Regions from separate parts of the Homo sapiens genome. Here region 1 is linked to region 2. A link means that fine-mapping ties the variant in region 2 to the expression of a gene that starts in the linked region. Tissue or cell type: whole blood. Region 2 holds a variant in brackets; the other region holds the start of a gene. All regions are shown on one strand. Distances are between the middles of the regions.

What was found. PIP is the estimated chance that this variant, and not a neighbour inherited with it, causes the effect.
Region 1: it holds the start of PLD1, and the variant in region 2 is fine-mapped to the expression of PLD1 in whole blood (TOPMed, PIP 0.99).

Annotation. Positions count from the first base shown.
Region 1 is chr3:171,808,442-171,813,441 of GRCh38, forward strand. It overlaps PLD1 (phospholipase D1), which reads right to left and starts at 2,042. Exons shown (of 27, transcript NM_002662.5): 1 at 1,958-2,042.
Region 2 is chr3:171,697,467-171,702,731 of GRCh38, forward strand. It overlaps PLD1 (phospholipase D1), which reads right to left. Exons shown (of 27, transcript NM_002662.5): 12 at 2,279-2,360. Among named protein-coding and RNA genes, the nearest start is that of PLD1, 110 kb to the right of the region's middle. The variant G/A (reference allele first, on the strand shown) is at 2,314.

The sequences.
Region 1 (5,000 bases), 110 kb after region 2:
AGGAGAATGGCGTGAACCCGGGAGGTGGAGCTTGCAGTGAGCCGAGATCGCGCCACTGCACTCCAGCCTGGGCGACAGAGCGAGACTCCGTCTCAAAAAATAATAATAATAATAATAATGACAGTCCTACTTTTCCTTTGTAACAAAAATAAAAGTTACCTATAAGAGTTAAAGGTAAATAAAATTTGTAATTTTAATTAAGAAACACTAAGTAAACATACAACTTCCAAGAAGCCGGGTTCCCCACTACCTGGTTATAAGTAAGTCTACAAACCTAAATGAGCATTGTACAGCGCTTACTATAGTTCATAATTATTCTGTCATCAGGGACAAACATTGTAAAGACACTTTTTCCTCAAAGCCTTAGCATTCAATTTTTTTTTTTTTTTTTTTTTTTTTTTGAGACAGATTCTTGCCCTGTCGCCCAGGCTGGCGTGCAATGGCTCCATCTCGGCTCACTGCAACCTCCGCCTCCCGGGTTCAAGCGATTCTCCTGCCTCAGCCTCCCGAGTGGCTGGGATTACAGGCGTGTGCCACCACGCCTGGCTAATTTTTGTATTTTTAGTAGAGGCGGGGTTTCACCATGTTGGCCAGGCTGGTCTCAAACTCCTGACCTCAGGTGATCTGCCCGCCTCAGCCTCCCAAAGTGCTGGGATTACAGGCGTGAGTCACCGCGCCCAGGCAGCACTCCAACTTTTTATATGGATTGTTAACTGTACTGGTTCTTGAGAAGCCAGACTGAGCGCTTATACAATTAGTCCAAAGATCCCCAAACAACATTTAAAGGCTGTCTACAAATTCAAGCTAAAAGACTGTGTACAAATTCATTTGTGTGTCACAAAACATTTAATACTGAAAGAGATTCTTATTCAAATAGGCAGTGTGTAAATGTGGGGTCTGTTAACAGTTCAAATTGCAGATTCCTTTCCTTCTTTAAGTTTTCATTGCACCACCACGAACTAAACCATTTAACATACCTCAGAGGTCTCTGGGTACCTAGTCTCTCAGAGGCCTTTGGAGGCCCACGAAGGCTTATCTTAACTAAAATTGGCAGGGCTGGCTGATAAAGTTAACGGAACTCCCCATTTTGGAGGCAGACTTAGTAATGGTCAAACGAAGAAACTGTTGTGGTCTGTTCTTAAAAAGCTACTAGTATTTAGTGCTTCACAGAGGAAGTAAAGAAAGCAATAATCCGAGATGAGGAGGAGCAAATACAGGCGTGGCGGTAGTTCAGGACTGAGTCTACAAGGGCGGTTCTCAAGGGCGTCACAAAATCCTATGGAAGGCTTGGAGGACGGCACTCCTGGATCTGAGCCCTACGTCCCAAACACCTTCAATCGTATTGTGAGGAAGAAGACCTTTTACACACTCCCTGCTGCTGGCCCCCGGCCCCCTCGCCCCACCTCCGAGTGGTCACATCACACGGCGGGAGCCGCGGTCAGCAGCTGTGATCACACCCCCAGGACCGTGCTCTGCGGGCTGGGCTCGAAGCCTTGGGACGCGGCACTTCCTGGTTGGTACGGGATGCCGGTCCCATCGCCCCCACCAGCCCAGTCATGCCACCGCGCACCCGAACCAAGGGCGCCCGGATGACCTGGGGACACCACACACACTGCACCCGAAGCCCTGTGGCGGCGAGGCGGTGCATCCTGCAGAGGACGCCTGGGCTTCAGCCTGAGCCTGCGCGGCTCTGCGCTCCAGGCAGCCGCCCGCGCGGCAAAAGTGCGTGCCAGAGTTGTCAGCTTTCACCCTGCAGGAATTCCACCCGAAGGCGTGCGAGGGAGGCCCTTGGGGATCGCTAGGGAGTCCGCCGCCGACTCACTCGCTGAAATCCCGTCCAAGTTGGGCGGGGAGCGGCCAGCTGCCCAGGTTGGGCGGAGGAGGGACGGAGGGCGAGGGCAGTGGAAACCCGGCTCCCACGGGCGCCCGGTGATCCGGGTCTCGGCGCGGCTCCTACCTGCAGGGCGAAGGGGCCGCTAGCACCTGCGCGTTGGCGGCGGACTCTCAGGGCTCGGGTGCCTCTGGCACAGCTGGAGCTCAGCGGGAGGGAGGGAGAGAGGGCGGGCCGGAGGGGGCTCTGCGCTGCGCGGCCGGCAGGAACTCTCCGCCCGGATTCGCCCCGGATTCGCAGGGGTGGAGCGAGGCGGTGCCAGGTCCCGGGGCGTCGCGGTGCCGGCTGGAGGCCCCAGCGGGGCAGGTCTCGCGACTGGGCCTCTGATCGCCCGCGTTCCTTGTTCTCTTTTCCCAAAGTTTCATAACTCGACCGCATCACCCTAGGGAATGCTCGCTATTAGGACCATTATCAGGTCCTCTCGAGCCGCCAAGGACCAGCCACCTTTCCCGGAGCTTTGCCTATGATATCTATTCTTCGACTACTGCGGATAGTAGCCACAACTGGTCCAACTTATAAGTAAGGAATCAGCAAATCAAACGGCTAAATAACTTGCCTGAGGTGACATAATTAAGAGACTGGAGCTTTGCTGGAGTCTTTATAAGCCTTCTTGCACCTCCTTAGGGAAGTGTTATCGCCAATTTACAGGTAAGGAAATGAAGGCTCAGAACCAGCCCGAGGTCACACAGCTTAGATGGAGGGGGACGGGAATTTGTGTCCCGATGTCTCTAAAACTGGTTATAATTCAGAAATCTTAGCATAAAATAATAAATTGGGAGCAAAACAGGGAAAAGACCCATTCCACCTATGGAACCGTTCAAACACGGCAATTTTGCTGTTTTCAGTCCACTTAGAATAAAGTCTTAAGAAAAAGAGAACCAGTTGTCATGTGGCTTGAATAGCAGCCCTTTGGGAATGTAATTTTGAATATAGGCCAGTTCCAACCTCATTACACGATATTGCATCCCGCCAAAGCCAGGGGAAGCAATGGCCTCCCCATGCACCAAACTGCTAATAACGTCAGCCACTTTAAAGCATTTAGTGGATATTACACAACTGCGACTGACCAAGTTACATAATGTCTTACTGCACACATGGCATTGCATGAAATGAAAAATATAATATACCAGTCCAAATTAGGGGAGGGGGGCCAAATTATAGTCTGGAACTCAGTTTTCCTGTAACCTACAGTTGCTCAGCCCTCCTTAGACCACATTTTTGTCTCTTGAGCACATCTTTTCCTAATGATAGAAGAGTCACACAGCCCTCACTCTTTCCTTGTTGACATAAATGATTGATGTCTTTTGAATCCTATGATACTGACAGATTTTTACAATTAAACACATGACTCTCTGAGCAGAGTATTGCCTAAGAGGAGTTTAGTAAGTTTCAGACAAGCATGTTACTGGAAGGCAGAATACCCTCTCTCCTCCCCTCTTTCTCAAGCTTTATTAGTCACAGATGGTCTGATAAGTCTTGTGCACACACGTAACTGCATTCTTACAAGCTTGTCTTTAGAAATTATAATGCTTTTGGTTGAGAAGCAGCAGTCTATAAAATTGCATCCCAAATTCTTAAGTGTCACTATGAAAACATTTGGCACTTGCCTCCAACAATAGGTCTTTCTACTAAATCTAATTAGAAATAAAATTATCAAGGCCAAGCGCAGTGGCTCACACCTGTAATCCCAACACTTTGGGAGGCCGAAGCGCGTTGATTACCTGAGGTCAGGAGCTCAAGACCAGTCTGGGCCACATGGCGAAACCCCGGCTCTACTAAAAATACAAAAATTAGCCGGAGGTGGAGGCAGGTTCCTGTAATCGAAGCTATTCGGGAGGCTGAGGCAGGAGGATTATTTGAACCTGGGAGGAGGAGGTTGCTGTGAGTTGAGATTGCACCACTGCATTCCAGCCTGGTGACACAGCAAGACTCTGTCTCAAAAAAAAAAAAGAAAGAAAGAAAGAAAGAAAATTATCTAAGTGCCCTTACAATAACTGAATTTCTGCCTCCCTGGGATAGAGGAATAAAATAGGAAATGCCATATGTTGTTTAGAGATGAACTGAAGCTTATGGACTCCCAAACATGAATTTTAGAAGTAGTATGATTTTGTATGTAATTATTTTATTTTCCTGAGAGATTTTGTGATTTTTCTTTCCAACTCTTTCATATCTTCAAAGATGTCAAGAAACAGTGACTAAGTAATCATGCTATACATTCATCTCAATATGCACTTGACATTTTTGTCAAAGTGGTATTTGAAATCCTTTTAATTGTTCTATTTTCTTCTGAGAATAAAAACATATATGTTCATTTTTATAATTTTAACATCTATATTTTAGAAAAAAAATTTTACATCTATGTTTTAGAGACCACAGAAAAACATTTTTAATTAAAATCACCTATAACTCCCACACACACACTCTCTATTAGCATTTAGTATATTTCCTTATTTTTTCTATGCCCAGAGGTTTGTTATAAAATTAACACCATGCTTTACAGAGTTTAGAATCTTCCTTATCTCACTAAGTATTTATAAATTGACTATTTTTTACTGTTATTAAACTTTCTTTAAGATATCATTTCTGTGGTTGAAGAATATTACAATCATTTATCAAATGTTTTAGGATATTTTCAGACTTTATTGCAGTTTACAAATCATGCTAGAATGAACACTACGTTGCATCATCTTTGTCAAGATCTCTACATCCTTAGGATAGATTCCTAAAAGTAGAAATACTGGATCAGCATTTAGAAACATTTTTAAGGTGCTGTGTGATGCTGCAAAAATACCCTCCAGTATTAAATATTGCCTTGCTTATAACCTGAAAATGTCACGAATCAAAATCATATCTTGTTTTAATCAACTTTTTTATAATCAGTAATGCTGAACACGATTTTTTCATGTTATTATTTGTACCATTTACTGAAAATGATCTATTCATGTCCATTACCTGTTCTTTTTCTATGGTAAATTAGTTTCTTGTTAATTTGCAATAATGCTTTCAACAGAAACAGAACTATTTTATCAAAGTGACATACAAATGGTGCTCCCCCAGATTTTCCCTTGTGGTACATTTGATACAAGCACTGCCATCCAGATCATCTAGT
Region 2 (5,265 bases):
CCCTGCTTCCCCACACCGCCCTGCCCCGCACAGTACTGCCCCACTGTCTCCCATAAAGTCAAACCACTAGCTTGGCTCACAAAGCCTCTGCATCCCAGCTGCAACTAGCAGTTCCAGCTTAATCCCCCATCCGGCTATGCTAACACTCAGATGTGATGAACCACCCTACCGTGCCTGACAAAGTCTTTGGCACTGCTGTTTACATCTACTACACCTAGAAAGTTCTTCTTTCCCTTTTAAAAATGTTTGTCCATCCTAAATGCCCCACATCCTTCATGTTGTGTGGAGCTCCCCAACTGGACCTTTTCCATTGGGAAAGCCCAATGCTTTCCCTCTTGCCATTAAATCGGGGCATTGTTTCTGCATGCAACTGACACTTCTGCAGATTTTATAAGCTCCTTCAACTTAAGAATCATGGCTTTTATTTATGTACATCCTCATATGATTAGCCAAATGCCCTGCACATAGAAAACATTCAATAAATACATATTGATTGAAACCTAAAACAGTGAGGTGCTGATTAAATATTATAAGCAAAAATTTACTAGTATTAGTACAGATTGCTACGCAAGGCTGGAAAAATGTACTAAAATAGAATCTTGAGGGAAAATGGAAAAGATGCCATTTCATTGAGAGAAACATAGAGAAAGTTACTGCCCATTCAATAGGTAGAAAGTAGTCTGGTAAGGCTAGGACTGAGCCCAAGACATGAGTCCCTCAGCAAGTTCGCCACTGGCAAGGTTCAAATCTGATTCATGGTGGCATTCTTAGTGATTACCGTAGAAGCTGGCTCATAGGAGACAGTAACCGTATGATGAATTATTTAATAAATATGTGAATAATGTTTTCAGAATCAAAATGTCCAATTCTGTAACTGGAATTCTATTGATGAAACAAACTAGACTATCCATCAAAATGATGTTGTTTGGCAGAATGTGTTTCAAATAAATATTATCAATTTCTTTTGCTTTCAATATTAGCAGTGAGGTCTGACTATATTTGTGGATATCCCCAGAAATACTCAAGTAAATGCATGGGGAAAAGATACAGAAAGAAAAGGGGAAAGTGAATGGGGAAATAAAAAGTGGAATGCAGAGGATAGGAAAGAAGAAATGAGTGAAAGCTATGAGAAACAGAAAAATGCTAACCCCAATTATTTAGGCTCCACACGTTCTGCTAGCATGTTTAATGACAGAATAAAAAAAGGTTGGCCGGGAGCGGTGGCTCAAGCCTGTAATCCCAGCACTTTGGGAAGCCGAGGTGGGCAGATCACCTGAGGTCAGGAGTTCAAGACCAGCCTGGCCAATGTGGTGAAACCCCGTCTCTACTAAAAATACAAAAATACAAAAAAAAAAAAAAAAAAGCCAGGCATGGTGGTGGGCACTTGTAATCCCAGCTATTTGGGAGGCTGAGGCAGGAGAATTGCTTAAAGCTGGGAGGCAGAGGTTGCAGTGAGCCGAGACTGCACCATTGCACTCCAGCCTGGGCAACAAGAACAAAACCCCATCTCAAAAAAAAAAAAAAAAAAGGTTAAGACAGTTTCTGATAATAGCAAAAAGTTAGCACTTCCTAATTTGGACATGCTAAATAATAAATCCCAGATCTATTTTTAATTTAAACTGATTTAATTTTAAGGGCCTATTACATTAAAAAAATCACTAGAAATATGAATGCAGTCATTAGTGAGCCTAGGCTGCTTCAGTTATTTACTTTTTATACCTAAAAAGCACACATTCAATGTTCACCCAGAATGTACAGGGTCAACTCCACAGGAAACAGTTTCACATTTTTACCAGGAACTTTACCAAAACCAGAGAAAAAACACCACCAACTGTGACTATTCCTCCCCCTTTAATATTATTCTACACCACATTAGCCCCATCTAGCTGAAACCATTCTCCAGATGAGTTTTCCTTTTGCTTAAATGACAAAATAATGAATACAATTAAATGCTATGCTCCATTTCATCATTTATTATTCAATGATGAAATTTTATTATAATTTTTTTGCCTATAAAATTAGCTGCCCATAACTGATTCAAAAATAAGAATTAGAGATGCTAACATAATCCATGCTGTGAATTAGTCTAAAATATTTATGCACTCAAAAGCAATAGGAATAAAATAGAACCAAATGAACTGGAAAACATTAGTTATCCTACTTTTTGTCAAACTCTAAAGTGAAAAGTTATACGTGTGAAAGGCTTTGAAAAGAAAAGCATTTCAGAGACAACAGACAGTTAAAAAATTATATCAGCATTTTCTGGGAAAGTACATACTGCTTTTCGTTTAAGAATGCAGTCCAACCTCCAAC[G/A]ATTTCCCTCAACCACTGGGCGTTTCAGGAAGATTTCTGGACTCAGCCTGAAACAATGAAACCAAGATTTTAAGTAACTAAAACAAAATATAAAGTTCTGATTGTGTCATAGGAAGCAAAGGCAATTTCAGCCCAATTCAACCCCATTATCATCCTCCATTGTGATGGGTAATCCAAAGCTTTACTATGAGTCTAGGAACAACTTCGTATGGGAAAAATAGCCTTTAGCTATACAAAACATCAATCTTAGTTCTTTCTCTCTCTCTCTCTCTCTCCCCCCTCTTTAACTGTCTCTCATACCCACATGCTCACATATGCACACAGGTACTGTTGGTTGCCCACCCACAGCCAATCTCCAACTTCTTCCCTGCTCTCAGAGCCTCTCTCCCACCACAGACTGAATATTCTAGATACTTGCTTTCCCAGACTCCTGTGCAGCTAGAGCACAACGTGACACAATCCTGAACAATGAGATATATGAGGAGGTACACAGGGGCTTAATGGGAAAGTTTTTCCTCCCTGAAACACACACACAAACACACACACACACACACACTCTCTCTCTCTCTCTCCCTCTCCCTCTCTTTCGCTCTCTCTCCCTCCCTCTCTTTTGCTCTCTCTCCCTCTCTCTCAGAGAAAGCCCTGCCCACACTTCCAGCTTTGGGATGGATGTTGTATGGGAGTATGATGCTTACAGGGGTGCAGCAATATTGAAATTCTAAGGGGAAGACCATAACCCCAGAATCACTAAATCACTCTGCCAACCTCAGGATTGCCCAACTTTAGACTTAACATTAAATGTGAAAAATACATCCTCAGTGTTTAAGCCCTCTTTAGTTGAACATTCTGTTACCCCAAACTAAAAGCATTCTAATAGATACACAGACACATGACTTCCTATACAAAGAAGCAGCATCTGAGGGAACCTGGGGCTTTCTGGACAGGGGAGAAGGAAGGTCGGCTGATATATGAAATTTTTCCTAGGCTCTTCTCCTTCAGTAAGGCATAAGGCAGCTAAGGTAAGCTAAGCTTCACAAGGCAGCTAAGAGTACAATAGAGTCATTTTTCCCCTGGGGCTGGGTTCTAAAGTTAGTTTCTGAGTTAAACATGTACATGATGTAACTTCCCTGTAGTTAGAAAAAAGAAGCAGTAGAAAATACTCCTTTCTCCACTGAACTGCTAGACCTGAGGCAGCAGAGGTAGACTATGTCAGGATGAAAGCCTTATGGAATTCTGCACTGGAGTATTGCCCTCCCAGGCAGCCCTCTAAGCATGTGAAATCAACAGTGCTTTAAGGAGCTAAAGAGATTAAAAGAAATCAATTTTATGCTCTATTTCATTCAGTTAAAGAAAATAAAAACCCAGAGATAAAGTTTCTAAAGGAAACGTTATTGGGTAAAATAAATAAGGAAACAGACAAATGGAAGAGTTTGGACAGTGTAAGTCTTGCATATTTAATTGAGAGTAGGAAACAAACTCAAAGGTAATCTATGTCCAAACAAGCAAACAAACAAATAAAGCACAGCAATTGATCAGAAAAGATCAAAGAAGCATTAAAAGGAAATCTGTTTTAAAATAGTAAAATGCATTGCTGTGCACTGCTAGTTCACCAAAAGTGAGAGATAGCCAACAACATATATACAATTGCAATTTTTTGATGTGTACATTAAATATGGGCTCAAAGAGCTTCGGTATGGGGGAGACTTTTAATGTCATACTCTGCAATTAAGTATTTATCATCATTTATTTCATTTAATCCACAAACATGTGTACCCTTGTATGCTAAGCATTCTACAAGATACTTTGAAGAATCTTAAGATAGCTCTTGAGGAGCCCTCAATTTTGAGGATAATGCATAAAAAGAAAAAAAGATTTTGTTATATCATGCTATAAAAGTATAAACCATGGCTGCATGGCAAGAAGAAAGCAGCTATAACTTACCAAGCATTATTATGTAAGAATCTTTACTTACTTGTAAACAAAGTTATTGTTTAATATTACATTTCATTGGATCTAGGACACCAGTGACTGTAGGATGCATCGTTACTGCATGTACCACTAAGAAAGAAAACATCATGACAACTATAACTGTAAGAGCATAAGATGCATCCTGATTGCGGAGATATTAAGACGTACCTCTAAGTAAGTGTACCACTTAGAAGATTTAATGACTTTAAATGCTTACATGAGAAAGACAAAAAATTAAAAATTAATGATCAGACTTTCCTTTCTTAAAAGATAGAAAAAGAAGACATTAAACCCAAAGTAAGAAGATGGGGGAATAATAAATATAAGAGTAGAACTTGATGAAATACAAACCTGAAAAAATACAGAGAAAATTCAATGAAACTAGATGTTGACTCTTTGAAATATCAATAAAATTTGTGAACTTCTAGCAAGGCTAAAAATAAATGACAAAAAAATGATTGAAAGGATGGGCTCACATGTATAAACCCAGCACTTTGGGAGGCTAAAATGGGAGGATTGCATAAGCCCAGGAGTTTGAGACCAGCTTGGGCAACATAGCAAGACCCTGTCTCTACGAAAAAATTTAAAAAATTAGCCAGACATGGTGGCTCATGTCTGTAGTTCCAGCTACTCGGGGGGCTGAGGTAGGAGGATTGCTTGAACCTAGAAGGTTGAAGCTGCAGTGAGCCACGATCATGTCAGTGCACTTCAGCCTGGGCAACAAAGGAAGACCCTGTCTCAAAAAAAAAAAAGGAGTGAAAGACAGGTAATCACTATAGGGCCTAGAGGCATTATAATTATATTAAATGAATAATAACTATTAAAAATAACTGTATGCCAATATTTGTGGTAATTTAAATAAAATAAACATATTCCTTGAATAAAATATTTTCATAATGAAAATAAAAAGAAATTGAAACTGACTTCATAGCTATTGAAAAACTGAATTTGTAATTAAAACTTTCCTACAGGGAAAACTACAGA